2 separate regions of the Homo sapiens genome follow, and region 1 is linked to region 2. A link means that fine-mapping ties the variant in region 2 to the expression of a gene that starts in the linked region. Tissue or cell type: whole blood. Region 2 holds a variant in brackets; the other region holds the start of a gene. All regions are shown on one strand. Distances are between the middles of the regions.

Region 1 (8,110 bases), 310 kb after region 2:
GTTGGTTTCATCATTAAAGTGGATGAGCTTTAATGATGAAACTAATTTCATATTTCATTTAAATACCCTAATTTTTTTCCTAAAACTGGCTTATAGGTTTAGTCAATATTTTTGCCTGATACCAAAAAATAAGCTTTATAAATGCTATATAAACATATTACTCTTTCTATGTAAACATAACACTTTTTTCTCATCTCACTCTATAAATGGTGATAAATGTACAAATACACATGCCCCAGCATCCTTTATCACAAACAGAACACATTCTTGAAATATATAATCAAAATTAAAAGTGTAGTGGAGTTAGGTTCTAAATTAGTGAAATAGGGCATTAAATGCCATGGATGCAAAATTACCCTTTGGAACACCCTTGAAAAATTCCTTAGGAAAAAGCTACATTTGGAAGCTTACCTACTACCCTCAGTAAGTCCAATACAGATAGCTTTTCTTCCCTCATTGAAATTAATCACTTTTTCTTCATATAAGCATTATTTATAGTTCAGTTGCTAATCAGGGGGCCATATTTTTTTAAAGTTTAATTAGATAATACAATCACTTAGAGTGGGATGAGATGCTGATATTAAGAGAAACATTTGATTGCTTTCTATTACATGCTTATTCTGAGGCATTCCAATGATGTAGAATGGTATGGGGAATTACTCAAACTTCACCAAGCACACATCACTGAATTCCCATAAGTTGAATGTGAAAGCAAAACAAATTAAATGAAGCTACTACTTATGACCATGGACTAATTAGCAGTGTTCTTTTTCCTAAACTGTATGTTTCAAGCCTTGTTGGGTTCTGAAATTAATTTAGATCTGGACAGCATTTTTTAAAGGAATAGAACTGAAAAAATATCAGCCCACACAGTATTAGGGCATGTATTCTTTCTGAAAATATATGTTTGTATATGTGTGTACTTACTAGATTGAGATACAAAATTTTACTTCGAGTTGTAATTTTCAGCAGTTTTAATGCTATGTATTCTTGGGTACTGTGATCTCTAGCTGAATAAATAAGCGGGAGAGTATACTTTAAAAGATATAAAAGTGAATATTTAATCACCTAAATGCTTTTTACAAAACAATTGGGAGTTCAATTACTATTTTTCCCCAAGATTCCCGAAGAGCAGGAGTCTGATTTGACTAAGATTTTTATGGTGCGGGATACTGCCTACAATTATATAAGAGTATTAATATTACAAAATCTAAGAGATCATCATTCTAGACTATTATGACCATCTCTGTATTCTTACATTTGCCAAGAGTATGTCAATCATTTTCCTAGTCTATATATGTCCGAGGTCACAAAAGCCAACACCATGTTTGGAGCCACATTTTTAAAGAATGTAAGTATTTGTGGGAAGAGGTTCATCAGGCTGTTTCCAATAGACTGACTTCCTTAACCAAGTCGGTCATAAAAAAGTATCTTAGCTCTTTAGCCAGCTAAAGGCCTAACTATGTGGGGAGGCAGAAGTGGGAGGAAAGAGTGCGGAAAATATGCCAAAGAGTGTCTTAGATTAGGACTCAGAGTATCAAAGGCCTTTATCATGGGTTCACATCTTAAAACTCCCCAAAGGGTGAGGTCTGCAGATGACAAATGCTTCAATTCATTGTTGTCATTTATTTATCCCTTTGCTCCTTATCCAACGAAGAACAGAAAAATGGTAAAACGAAAAGAGGGCACCATATTAAATGTCCCAACCTTGTTTAACCAAAGGCACATTCAATTTGAAGATGGTCCCATTTTTACACCCTTCACTCAGTCAGCAAGGACCTATAAAATGGGCAAAAGAATCCAACAGAACAAACTATGAGAGAATGAATTTCTGTAATCCCAGCACTTTGGAAGGCCAAGGCTGGCGGACCACGAGGTCAGGAGATCGAGACTGTCCTGGCTAACACGGTGAAACCCCATCTCTACTAAAAATACAAAAAATTAGCCAGGCGTGGTGGCGGACACCTGTAGTCCCAGCTATTCGGGAGGCTGAGGCTGGAGAATGGCGTGAACCCGGGAGGCGGAGCTTGCAGTGAGCTGAGACTGCACCACTGCACTCCAGCCTGGGCGACAGAGAATGAATTTCATGAACTGTTTTATTAAACTGATGATACTGTTCACAAAGTTACTTTGATGTTCAGCAGCTCCTAATTGGTTTCTAAGTTGAAGACAGAGTGACTTAAAGATCTACTGTTCAGTGAGTTTCCCACATCCAATCTCCCAACCCTATCTAAAGGTTCTGGTAAAATCAAAAGAGATGATGGTAAGGATGCAAAACTAAAGGAAAATTCAATCTCTTTGAACATGAGTATAGTCAAGTCCATCCTTACAAAAACTCTACAAACAGGAAAGTAATTTTAATGCAATTGATTTAGCAAATGTTTTTCACTGGCAAGATCACATGAAAATGTGATTTCTCACTCAAGGACCGCGGAATTACCATAGCTGGTTAATAAACAAGTACCAAGCATCATCTATTGTTAAGTTCCCGGCTCTGAGACTTTCTAAACGTTACTCGTCTGTGTTTACAACTTAAGTTTGACTGGGTAAAAACAAAGCCAAGTGTGGGTTTGAAATTTTAAAAACAGGCTCCTTCATCGATGGATTTTACTCTAACCGAAGTGTTTACACTTTCCTGTTCATTTCAACTAGTGGACTGCATGTCACTCCTGGGCCCCCGGCAGGTATCAGCTACCGTCACCACCAAGAACTTGGGCTTGGGGGGGAAGCGGAGAGGATGCGACTGCGAGTATCCAAGTGACCAAAACCAAACCCGGGCGCGGAGGCGAAGCCTGTCTGGCCGCAGTTCGGAAAGGGGCAGGGGCCCGGGTTTGGGGAGCCGGGCGCAGCCGCGTCCCTCCAGCCCCCGGCCGCGAGCGAAGCAGGGTGTGCATCTGCCAGGGAGCGTCGCTGGGCGGGGTAGGTCCCAAGGCAGAGGGAGAAAGGCGCGCCTCCCCACGGGTCCCGGCCCCGCTGTGGTGGGGAAAGGGGGACTGCGAGACTCCTCGATACCTGACACAGGGCCAACTCCTCCTTTAGGCTGCTCAGCTCTTCCTCCAGCAGCTGCGTCCGGGTCACCATCGCCTCCTCTACCGAGATGCCCTCTAGCCGTCTGGACCCCATGGGCGCGCTGAGGAGGGGAGCATGAGCCGGAGCTGCCCCCCCAGGCCCTCGCCGGCCCCCTGACCCTTCTTCACCCACCCAGATTTTATCACTTTCGTCCGCGACCACCTCCCGCGCTGCGCCGGCAAAACCCGAGGCCTCGCTGCGCATTGCGTGTACTTCAGCTCCCCGCCCAACACGTGGGGACCTGGGGCCCAGCTGTCGCGCTGGGGGCGAAGGGTGCGGTGAGGGAGGCGAACGCGCCGCCATGGCTGCGGCTGCTAACGGGTCAAGTTCCCTGTTGGAAACTCCACCTCCCTTTCCCCAACCCGGCGAGCCCGGAACGCCGAACCGCGCATGCGCGAGGCTTTTCCCGCCTTGGCCCGCGGTGTCCCGTGTTCTCTGGTCCTGGCCGGCTTCCCGCGGGCAATGCGCCCAGCGCGAGCCTTGGGGTACGCACGCGCCGTGGCCCGAAAGGGTAAGGCCGGTCCGCCGGGCAGGCCATCCCAGCGTCCTGTGCCTGAGTCCTTGGCCAGGATCGCCTGGATTTCCCGCCCACCTAAAGCCCTGCCTGCCACTTACATCCCACCTCTTAAAGCCTTCCTTGACAAGCCCCCAGCCCCAAATGATCCTTAACTGTGAAATCCCTCTCCTTCAAGGCCCCTGCCAACTCGTGTGACACGTTTCATTGACCGCCCTGGAGTGTCAGTTACACGGCTAATCTCCCCAGCCCTGTTGTAAGCTCCTTGAGGATCAAGGAATACGTTTTACACTTAAGTGTTTTCTTCACACCCCTTGGCAAAACTGCTTTAGTACAGCTGACATCCAGCTGACTAATGTCAAGGAGATGTGGAAAGCCTTGTGCTGATCTGGGACTATCAAGCAGGTTTCCAACTTGAATGATGATCCTTTGTACACCCTTTGTCTTTTGTTTTGCAGGAGTCATGATTTCCTTTGAGTTTTTATGTCAGCTTCTTTATGCGTTGGCTGGATATCAGAGGAAGTGTAGCCCACATTGCTGAACAGTTTGGGTCCTTGGAGCAGTTTGAAATCAGTAATTTGGAGCGTGGATGAAGAAACAAGACCTACTTTATCTTTTGTTCTCTTTTTTTTCTTTTTCTTCTGGCTTTCTTTATAAACTTCAAATAGGTAGTAATCGTATCTTTCTTTGCCCTTCAAATACTTTGTTACTATTGATAAGATTAATGAGATGCATATTGAGCTGGCACCAGAACATCCCTGAAAGTTAGAACTGCCCTCTTCTTCAGAAAGGGTTCCAGAATACTTGGGGAAAGCTGAGATGGGGGTTGAGAGCAGAAGTAGAGAGATGACCACTTTACTGTTAACTTCATTTAACCAAAATATCACCATCTCTGCATGAGAATCTAGTCAGGATGCCAAAAGACACCCTCCCAATTAGAATCCTGCCAAGGCAACCAAGATAAGTGGACTTCTTTCAAACTGAAGGTGAATTCCTCACAAAAACTTATTAAAGAGTACATTAGAAAAAGTATGTTTATAAGCCTGTCTTAGAACTAGCTAACCTACTGAACATTTACCATATGCTGAGTCCAGTGCTAAGCACTTTTCATATATGAACTCACTTAATACATATGTCACCTTCAATTAGATTATTATATATCTCCATTTTTACTAGTGAGGAAACAGACTTGCAAGGTTACTGTAACTTCTCTGAAGTGCCATGTCTGGTATCAGAAAAGCTAGGCTTTGAATTCACTGAATTCCACTTAACTCTGAAAACCTGTACTTTGATCGCTACCCTGTCTCCACACCTGTGACTTGAAATACAACATTTGGTCTTGATAGTCTGTGAGATTTCACTAGACTTAAGACTGGGAAGTCTAACCACATAAGTTACGTGTTTGGCCCCAAATCAGTATTAATGCACATTTTTAATTGCTGTATGTCATTCACTCAAAAGGACATCATTTCACCTGATCATAAAAAGATCCTTTTGAAAAGCAGTGGTATAAATATGTATATGTGACCTCCCAAAAGGATAATATCCTGACTCTTTGACTAGGCATTTTTTTAAATTTTGTCTTTATTGGAGCAAAATACACAAAATACACAACATAAAATTTACCATCGTAGGCATTTTAAATGGCTACAAATAGGCCAGGCGTGGTAGCTCACGACTGCAATCCCAGCACTTTGGGAGGCCGAGGCTGGTGGATCACTTGAGACCAGGAGTTCGAGACCAGCCTGGACAACATAGTGAAACCCCGTCTCTGCTAAAAATACAAAAATTAGCTGGGAGTGGTGGTGCATTCCCGTAATCCCAGCTACTAGAGAGGCCACGGCAGGAGAATCATTGGAACACGGGAGGCAGAGGTTGCAAACAGCCAAGATCATACCACTGCACTCCAGCCTGGGTGATAAAGCAAGACTGTCTCAAAAAATAAATAAATAAATAAAATGGCTACAAATAAAAAACAATTCAGCAGCATTAACTACATTCACCATGTTAGGCAACCACCACCACTATCTGGTTCCAGAATATTTTCATCACCGGAGGCGGAAACCACATACCCACATTAGTCTCTCCACATTCTCACTGCCCCCGAGCCCCAAGCAACCATTAATTCCCTTTATGTCTCTACGGTTTTGCCTGTTTGGGATATTTCATATCAATGGAACCATATAATATGTGGCCTTTTGTGTCTGTTTTCTTTTATTAGCATAATGTTTTCAAGGTTCATCTATGTTATGGCATGTATTAGTACTTCATTCTTTTTTATAGCTGAAAATATACCATTGTATGGATATCCTCCATTTTGTTTATCCATTCATCTGTTAATGGACCTTTGGGTTCTTTCTGCCTTTTGCCTATTGTGAACAGAGCTGCTATAAACATTCACGTACAGGTTTTTGTCTGAACATTTATGTTCAATTTTTTGTTTATATACCTATGAGTAGAATGTCTAGGTCATATGTTTAATTTACTGAGGAATCACCAAACTCTTTTCCACAGTGGTTGTGTCATTTTACCTTCCCATAAGCAATGTATTAGCATTCTAATTTCTCATCATCCTCACCAACACTTATTTTTTGTTTTAGTTTTGTGTCATTTGCTTTTTTTAAATTATACTTTAAGTTCTAGGGTACATGTGCACAACGTGCAGGTTTGTTACATAGGTATAAATGTGCCATGTTGGTGTGCTGCACCCGTTAACTCATATTTACATTAGGTATATCTCCTAATGCTATCCCTCCCTCCTCCCCCCACCCGATGACAGGCCCCAGTGTGTAATGTTCCCCACCCTGTGTCCAAGTGTTCTCATTGTTCAATTCCCACCTATGAGTGAGAGCATGCGTTGTTGTTTGTTTTTTATGGCCAGTCTAGTGGGTGTAAAGTGCTGTCTCCTTGTGGTTTTCATTTGTATTTTTCCCCATGACTAATGACAATGAGCATATTTTCATGTATTTTTTGGACATTTGTTTCTCTTCTTTGGAGAAATATCTATTTATTCAAGTTCTTTGCTATTTTTTAATTGGGTTATTTGTCTTTTTGTTGTAGAGTTATAAAAGTTCTTTACTGGCAGACAATTTTTAAGAAAAGAAACGTGCACATTTCTAGAAGTATGCATAAGGAGTTCTTTCTTGTATTAGTTATTTGCTGAAATGACAGAAACGGATGAAATGTTAAATACAAACACTTATGACTCAGAAGGATAAGTTAAATATCTGCACTGCTATGTGAATAAAAATGTGCAAAACAATCAAGGTGTTTTTCCTGTTCAACTCTTTGTCCTAATATTTAAAAGTGATAGTGTCTGTTCTGAAGAAATACATAATGAAGTCTGCTGAGGATTAAGTATATTAGAATAGAGAAACACATAATTCTCTCAATATCATCACTGTATAGTCGAAATCTTGGGAAATAATGGAAGAAATGTGCCAATTAATATGGTACTTAAATTGCCTCTTTTACTTTAATTTTTAAAATTTATTTTTAACTTCTGTTTTAAAAGAGAAAAAATGTATTAGCCGTTTCTCAGCCTTTATGTTTCTTTGTTTCCAGAAAGAATGAAGAATTTTAAAACCCATGTATTTCTGCTTTACCAGTTTTGTGTAATCTTTATTTGGTCAGCATAATTTAATTAAGTTTTAAAACACTATTAGGTATTGGTAAGACCTCAAACATCTTAGATTTCTTTTCATATCATTTTAGGAATTTATCTCAGTTTTTAGTCTTTGCCATGTCCTAGAGATTTAAATCAAGAATCACTTGCTTCAGCATCAAAAGAAAAATCCATAAGCTAGAATGTGCCGATGTGATGCTTGAGTCAGTAGTAGATGCATCATGACAGCCTAGTGTGGACAAATCTCAATCCAGAAGTTAGTAGAGGTAAATAAAGAGGATTGTTTTGTGCTTTCAATTACCGCAATTTTGATTGAGCAATTCCTGGCAACTATTGATCCCCTGATCAGTCCTGAGAATGCTCTAGGTCACAATTATAGGTATACAAGGAGATATCATCAGTTCCTTTTCAAAAATTATGACCCAACAGAGCTATGAAAGAATTTCATTTTCCATTTTCATCTCCAAAGGTTGTCAAACAGTGCAAAACTGTTCAAACATCTGTTGTTTTTTCTAATTATAAGCAAAAATTATCTCCACTGAACCCCAACTCTAAGTGTGTGGGTTGTTCGGTGGGGGCACAGGGGAAGTAACCTGTAAGCCTTAGGTTTGAGTAACTTGTATCAGTTTATTTAGTTCAGAAAAGTTTGGAATATAGTGCGTTTCCCTGAGAAGTTCAGTTGGTTCCACAAAACACAGGGTTGCATAGTTTCAGCTCTTCATTTCAACACACGACCACAGTGAGGCAACACCCTACGTTTTCAGCCTTCTCATTTATATTTAAATTTCCTCCTCCCTAATAGATGGGATTATACACCCATGGTCCTAGGTATTTTAATAGAATATTGTTTATCCTCAAAGCAGTATTACAAAAGTACTCCAGTTCTTCCAGCCCTTTTTCTC
Region 2 (8,110 bases):
TCCACTGAGTTACTGCATCACTCATTTATATACTATTTTCTGACAACTGCAGTTATGAAAGGGCTACACTATGTTTCACAAAATGTCAAGCAAATGAAGGTAATATAGAGGACTTTTCACCAATGCTTTTGCTAGTAGTTAGACTTCAGTAGCCTTTAGAGACCATTAAGTACCTTTTGGCTAATTGGCCAATGGTAGATTAATCCTCTTTTTATTCCAGCAACACTATTTTAACACCCTTACACTCTGTCAGTGCAGAGTCTGAATGACAAAATAATATTGTGCATGAATAATAAGCAGAAAAGTTAAATTAACATTTCATGTTTCACATGCCATACATAGGTGTCAGAGGAACTTTCTTTTTTAAGTCACTGACATTCAACTTTTTTAAACAATCTCATGTTGACATCTTATTGAGGTGAATCTTCCTAATTACTGCTAATTGCCTATCAAGAAAAAAAAACTCTTTTCATGAAGTGTAGTTGTCTGCTACAGATGAACCCAGCTCCAGTGTGCACATTAAAGACACAGCATGACACTTAAGGTGCTACTTTGTTATAAGGTCATACTAAATATGGTTTACAATTAACAAAGCAGTTTTTTTATGGGTCTGAAAATGCCAATCTGTCTTGATGTGTTCAAATTAGGTTCTATCAGAGAAATATGGATATCTGCATATGGATAAGAGATACGCTACTCTCAATAACATTTACAAGGAGTTAAATTAATTCAATGCCCTTATACTTTGTAACACAAGTTCTAGCTAATGTCCAATTAAATATTTTGTAACTGTGTTTAAATATTTCTCAAAATGAAAATCAACACTATTATTTCAAGTGTCAAATTATTCAAAACAGTTTACTAATACTTTTAATTCTGAAAGACCAAAAATACTCAAAACATTTAACAAGTACTTTTAATTTATATGAATAGTTTTAACATTATATGCCTTTATAGCAAATTTTAACCTATGTGATATTAGCAAGGTAGTGTCTTTCAAAATAATCTGAATAACTAAATGAACGCATTTTAATTGGATTTGTTGAACCACATCACTTAAACTTCTGTTCCCACAAGTATGGGGAAAATAATGGATAGTAAAAACACGTTATATGTGAAATTTAGAAAGTCAACTAATACAATTGACTTTCAAGTATTCACGGGAAAAATAAACATTTGTCTATTCACAGAAAAAAGAGTTTGACTGTTGGTTTGTTGTTATTTCAAATCTTCTGTTTAAGTTACGAGAAGAAAAGCTCTCTCTTTTTTTTTTTCTTTTATTATTATACTTTAAGTTTTAGGGTACATGTGCACATTGTGCAGGTTAGTTACATATGTATACATGTGCCACGCTGGTGCGCTGCACCCACTAATTCTCAGTAAACTATCGCAAGAACAAAAAACCAAACACCGCATGTTCTCACTCATAGGTGGGAATTGAACAATGAGATCACATGGACACAGAAAGGGGAACATCACACTCTGGGGACTGTTGTGGGGTGGGGGGAGGAGGGAGGGATAGCACTGGGAGATATACCTAATGGTAGAAGAAAAGCTCTCTTGAAAACTAAATACCAGGTACTAAATACTGGGACAGATAATGGGAACCAAAAGTATATCCAGAATAATTCATCATCCTCACTACCAACATAATTTCTCAATGTTTATATGGTAATATTATGAGTTCAGTCATAGCCCTCCTAAACACGAGACTTACATATGACATGCTTACTAATGACTATGAGGTTGCAATGCATACCCATTCTGACTCCTTTCCTCAATAGGAAAGAAAGAGGATGGTAGCGCTATTTGATGTCCTAAAGGAGAAACTGTGCAATGTCTTTCGGAACTCCTCTTTTTCACTCTCCTTCTCCTGCTTAAATTCAGTTAATTCAACATAGAAATAGCTATTCCTCACATGTCCTATTTACTATTCACCACTTTAATTATATTCTTCCTTCACCCTCTTTGTCAATATTTTTTTGTTACTGGAGTTGAGTGGCAGTAAGAAGAAAAGAATCCATCCCAATTTAAAGATGTTTTAAGTGAATGTCCACTCAAAGAACCAAGAAAAAAAATAAACATGCCAGATCAACAAAAATAATACTTGATGTTTCAGGGTGATGTTAACAGCATTATCTGTATCTAAGTAAAGAACGGCAGCCTCCTGCCCTCATAACCAAGGCTTGGTCAGGCCTGGGGAGCTCTATGAGGTGGCAGCAGGAGAAGGAAGCCTGAGGACATTGTACACGCAGAGTTTGGAGCCTCTTCCACCAAGAGGATCTGGCTTTGGAGCATCAGAAAATGAAACTGAATTTGCTGAAGGTGAAAGTGAAGCTAAACAGGAAATTCTTAAAAACAAAGATCTGGCTGTTCAACATGCCCATTTTTATGGGCTTGGATGGACTAAATAAAGATAATATCACCGTTTGTAAAACTGGAGATGTTTTTAAGGCTAAAAATCTCATTGAGGTAATGTGGAATTCTCATGAAGCCCGTGAAAAATTTCTTCATCCAGGAATTTTTTAGACAAGTGAATTTTTTGAGTGATACATGTCAAGGTGACAATGCATTTCCAAATGGGTTAGATGTTACCTTTGAAGTAACTGAATTAAGGAAATTAATGGGCAGTTAAAACACCATGGTTGGAAACAATGAAGGGAGTACGGTACTTGGCCTCAAACTCCCTGATCTTCTAGGTTATGCAGAAAAGGCGACTTTTCATTTTTCCCATGGAACAAAAGACGCTTCCCATGGCCTTTCTTCAAACCATGGCCCGGAAACTTCAAAAGGAATTTATCTGTAAACTTACATGAAGTTACTGAACAGTTCCCTTGGAGCTCACTTCCGGAAATGAACAGAAGATGATCAGCCAAGTACAGTCTTCCCATATGAAAGACCAGCCACACCAACAATTGGAAAGGCATGTGGCGAGACCTGGGCTGTCACTTAAGGACAGCATCATTTGCTGTTTGAAAGTAAGGCAGACATTCACTTAAATCATGTCTTTCACATGCCATGGTCATCGATTTTCAGAATTCTTCCATCTTACCAAGAAAATGTGTTTTGCTGAAAGTTAACCAGGAACTGACAGGCTACACTACAAGGGATATAAGCTTCATCAAAGATTTTGAACTTCAGTTGAATAAACCACTCATATTTGATTCAGTTTTTTCAGCAATTCTCTGAGGTGGGATGTTGGCACCCATGGTGATAAACTGTGAGTCCTGCTGATAGTTTCACCTTGGGGGACCAACAAGTGTCCAAGGATTCAGCATGCACAGCACCGGAGCAGAGTGCAGGCGACCACCTAGGTGGAGAAGCACGCT[G/A]GGCCAGCGGACCGCAACTGTGTACGCCAACACGTTTAAAGCCAAGCCAGGGCAGTTTGGGAGAACTTTTCCAAACACTTTTTTCTCAACACAGGAAACCTCTGCAACCTCAACTATGGGGAGGGCCCCAAAGTGTATTCGTGAGCTGGCTGAATGTATCTGCCAGTTTTATGGCACCAGGATTGTCTTTAGGCTTGGCAACATGGCTCTGTTGGAACTTAATTACTACTTTCCTATGGGAGTGCAGACAGGCAACAGGATATGTGATAGCATCTAGTTTTGAGCTGGGATAAGGTTCCTGTAGCTGACACCGCAGCGGGAGAAGCTCTGGGACCCTGATGGCAGTGAGTTGCCCACCAGGCAATTTCTCTCAGAGTAAATGCGGATGAGAGATTCTTTGACTGCAGTCTATGTGAAATACCGCATTCATAAATTTTAAAGACATACACATGAAAAGAGGCCATAACTTTTAAAGTACAATTATAATGACTGAGTTATCAGAAACAGACTATGAAATATCTGCAGAAGTCTCATGAAGACTGCTGATTCATCTCTGATTAAACTTGGTTTTCCTAGAAATCAGATTTCAATACTTTTATTTGACTGTTTTCTTGTCCTTGTGGTGTGCTATTACAATAGTATTACTTCTTATTTTATGGTATTTTATTGCTCTAAAAGGCCTTTGTGGACTAGCCAGAGGAAATCAATATCCATATATAGTATTAAATTGCTCATAATACTTAATTCCTACATAAGCTTCAAAAGAGAGGCATCAGTATTCCTTAGAATAATTTTTGACTTCTAAAAATTTATAATAGACCATGATATATTTCTGAAATTTAAATTTTATAAGATAAAGAATTTCTCAGTAAGCCTCTGAAAAGTATGAATATAAACATTAAATTACATTTGAATCAGTTCTTAGGAAGACTACATTATCACATTAATCTAAATTAAATATTACCAACTTTGGGGGTTATAGAGTCAAAGGCTAAAGATCATCATTTGCAGCTCCAAATTCATATATTCAAGCTAGCGAAAGACATATGTTTCTTAAATATATCCTAAATATGAATTACATCTTAATACTTAAAAACGGAAATATTTTCATGATAGGGTCTGTAGGGGTGGGTTGCCCCTCCACACCTGTGGGTGTTTCTCGTAAGGTGGAACGAGAGACTTAGGAAAGAAAAAGACACAGAGACAAAGTACAGAGAAAGAAGTAAGGGGACCCGGGGAACCAGCGTTCAGCATATGGAGGATCCCGCCAGCCTCTGAGTTCCCTTAGTATTTATTCATCATTCGTGGGTGTTTCTCGAAGAGGGGGATGTGTCAGGGTCACAAGACAATTGTGGGGAGAGGGTCAGCAGACAAACACGTGAACAAAGGTCTTTGCATCATAGACAATGTAAAGGATTAAGTGCTGTGCTTTTAGATATGCATACACATAAACAGCTCAATGCTTTACAAAGCAGTATTGCTGCCCGCAGGTCCCACCTCCAGCCCTAAGGCGGTTTTTCCCTATCTCAGTAGATGGAGCATACAATCGGGTTTTATACCGGGACATTCCATTGCCCAGGGACAGGCAGGAGACAGATGCCTTCCTCTTGTCTCAACTGCAAGAGGCGTTCCTTCCTCTTTTACTAATCCTCCTCAGCACAGACCCTTTACGGGTGTCGGGCTGGGGGATGGTCAGGTCTTTCCCTTCCCACGAGGCCATATTTCAGACTATCACATGGGGAGAAACCTTGGACAATACCTGGCTTTCCTAGGCAGAGGTCCCTGAGGCCTTCCGCAGTTTTTGTGTCCCTGGGTACTTGAGATTAGGGAGTGGTGATGACTCTCAAGGAGCATGCTGCCTTCAAGCATCTGTTTAACAAAGCACATCTTGCACCGCACTTAATCCATTTAACTCTGAGTTGACACAGCACATGTTTCAGAGAGCACGGGGTTGGGGGTAAGGTTATAGATTAACAGAATCTCAAGGCAGAAGAATTTTTCTTAGTACAGAACAAAATGGAGTCTCCTATGTCTACTTCTTTCTACACAGACACTGTAACAATCTGATCTCTCTTGCTTTTCCCCACAGGGTCAATAGTTAACTGTATGTCTCTCGTTGGTTGTACCGTATCTAAGTCTTGCAAATAAAGTGCTTGGATGAAAGCCAGTCAGGGAATTTCAAAACCCTACAACTCATTACAAATTTAACAGCAGCAGTACTAAGTATTCATATCATGTTGATCATTTATAAATATACCCTATAAAAATTCTCAAGAGAAGCAATAATGTTTTTTTCTATTCCCTGTATAAATTTCATAAGGTTCAAGATAGTGAAAAATGGACATTTTTAGAAAGGACTTTTAAAAATCTTTGGATTTGATAAAATAAAAAGTTACTGATACCATTTAAAATGGGATTTTAAAAAACTAAGGACCAACATATGTAAAAATTACCAAAAAAAGTCTTTCATAGCATAGAGTAGAAATTTCCTTTATATAGAAAAAAGAGATTTGCAAAGTTTTGACCTATACTATATTATTCAAGGTATTTCTCATAGATTTCACTGAAAAGCTATTTTTTCCAACACACAAAATTCCACATAGGAACTTCTACCATCAGCCTTCCCTTCATTTTCTATTCAGAATTGTTTTCTGTTTATCATATTCTTTCAAGTAAAAAGGCTTGACCTAACAAAGTAGGTCACTCAATAAATAAAGTCAAATAAATACCTGACTCTCAGGCAGTTATGCTACATCAAGGACAATGATTCATGTAGATCTTTAGTAAGAGGGTAAGTCTAGGTGTTCTTCCATTTTTATTAATCAAGCCAGTTGATCTGCTTTTCTTCTAAATCAGTAGTTCTCAAATAGTACATACTACCCAGATGTGTGTGTATTTTGGAAATTTGTTGGGGCACTTTTGAGTGCCACAATGATTGGCAACTGAAGTGGGTGACAGCAAAGAATACATAAGTACTGCAATGTATAAATCAGTCCTGCCCAATAGAAACTACTCTGTACCCTCATGACTCTGAAATTCCTGTCAATTACTCATGTAGGTGACAATTAACATATAATGAAATAACCTAAATCCTAACTCAAAATGACATACAGACAAAGTATTTGTATTCCTGTGGCTCCCCAAATTTAAGCAGAGAAGTTCTTTCCTTCTCTGAGGTAGAGCTATAAGAATGTAGGCTTACCACATGGCCAATACGCATGGCCAGAGCTGCATGGAGAAAGCTGGTCTGGTCTGGAATGAAGAGATGTGAGAAAGAAGCGTTAAAAACATTAGAGTGTCTGTCTGCAATTTTCTGTACCTTTACCAAGTCTATGATCTACAGTTCATCCTTTGATTTTGTGTTTTTTTTCTTATGTTAGTTTGAAGTCTGTTTCTATCACTTGCTATCAAGACAGTCTTGTTAATACAGTCTTCTTAGTAAAGTCCAACAGTCTCTTCTCAGTTTTCTATTATCAGTTCCTCTATGGGATCTGACACTGTTGACCAAAGCTTCTCTTTTTCTTGTTAAAAACTTTCTCTCCCTTGTTTCTTTATTAAAGTACTCAATTTTTCCTCCACATTCTCTGTACAGTTCTTTTGGATCTCCTTCTCTGACTCCTCTTTGCCCATATAGCAGATAACTCCCCCAAACTTAAGATCTTGCTGCAAAGATTTGTTCCACCTCCAGCATTCTTTCTCTGGGCTAATGACATCAGTAGATTTCCTTCTTCATTTTTAATGAAATATTTCAATATACCATAGGTATATAAAGAAAAATACAATGAATGCCCATGTGTTAACCAGTCAACTAAGACAATATATTACCAATACAGTTGAAGCTATGAACGTCTCTCCTGATCCACCAGAAATAATCACTATCCTGAATAACTTTGTTGTTTATTTTTCCCTTACCTTTCTTTATACTTTTAGAATATATACACATATAGACTCCTCAACCATATAGCAATTTAAAGACACTATTTCACATTTTAACAATCCCTGAAATTGTAATACAACTTCCCTTCCTAGATACCACACAATACCTGCTATTATTTAAACAATATTTTTCTTTTAAATTGCATATTCTGTTGATTGCTGGTGAATATGAGTCCTATTATCTTTGTATATTACTGATCCAGCAATCTTGCTGAAATCTCTTACTAATTATAGTAATTTGTCTTCAGATTCTGTGGAGACAAGCATAATGCATGGGAACTAATGATGGTTTTGTTTCTTCATTTCTAATATATTTAACTTTCACTTCTGTCTCTTATATTAATGTGCTGGTTAGGTACTCAAGTACAACATCAAAGACAAACAATGATAGCAGGCATAGAAGTATTCTTCCTGATTTCAAAAAGAATGCATCTAACTTCTTTAAGTATGATGGCTAGTTCAGGTTTTTGGTAGACACCTTTTAACAGAACTGTTTCAGGTTTTTGGTAGACACCTTTTAACAGAATAAGAAAGTTCCCTGCTAGTCCTAGTTTGCTAAGATAATTTTTATCATGAACAGATATTTAATTTTATCAGAAAATTTTTACCTTTTTTATTGTGGTAAAAAAACATGAGATCTACTTTCTTAACAAATTTTCAAGTGTACAGTACATAAACTTCCCTCTTACAACTGCTTATGCTTGCAGCCCATAAATTCAGGTATGTTATGTTTTCATTTTCATTTGTCTCAAGGTATTTTCTAATTTTCTTTGTGACATCTTTAACCCATTGGTTGTTTAAGAGTGTTTGGTTTAGCTGGGCATGGTGGCTTACACCTGTAATCC

The links. PIP is the estimated chance that this variant, and not a neighbour inherited with it, causes the effect.
Region 1: CNTLN starts here. The variant in region 2 is fine-mapped to the expression of CNTLN in whole blood (TOPMed, PIP above 0.99).

What each region holds. Positions count from the first base shown.
Region 1 is chr9:17,130,328-17,138,437 of GRCh38, reverse strand. CNTLN (centlein) reads right to left here and starts at 3,398. Exons shown (of 26, transcript NM_017738.4): 1 at 3,013-3,398. The coding sequence starts at 3,372. RefSeq lists an enhancer at 2,554-3,117.
Region 2 is chr9:17,442,668-17,450,777 of GRCh38, reverse strand. All of the region lies in intron 18 of CNTLN (centlein), which reads right to left. It also overlaps the pseudogene SAMM50P1. Among named protein-coding and RNA genes, the nearest start is that of SH3GL2, 130 kb to the left of the region's middle. The variant G/A (reference allele first, on the strand shown) is at 3,330.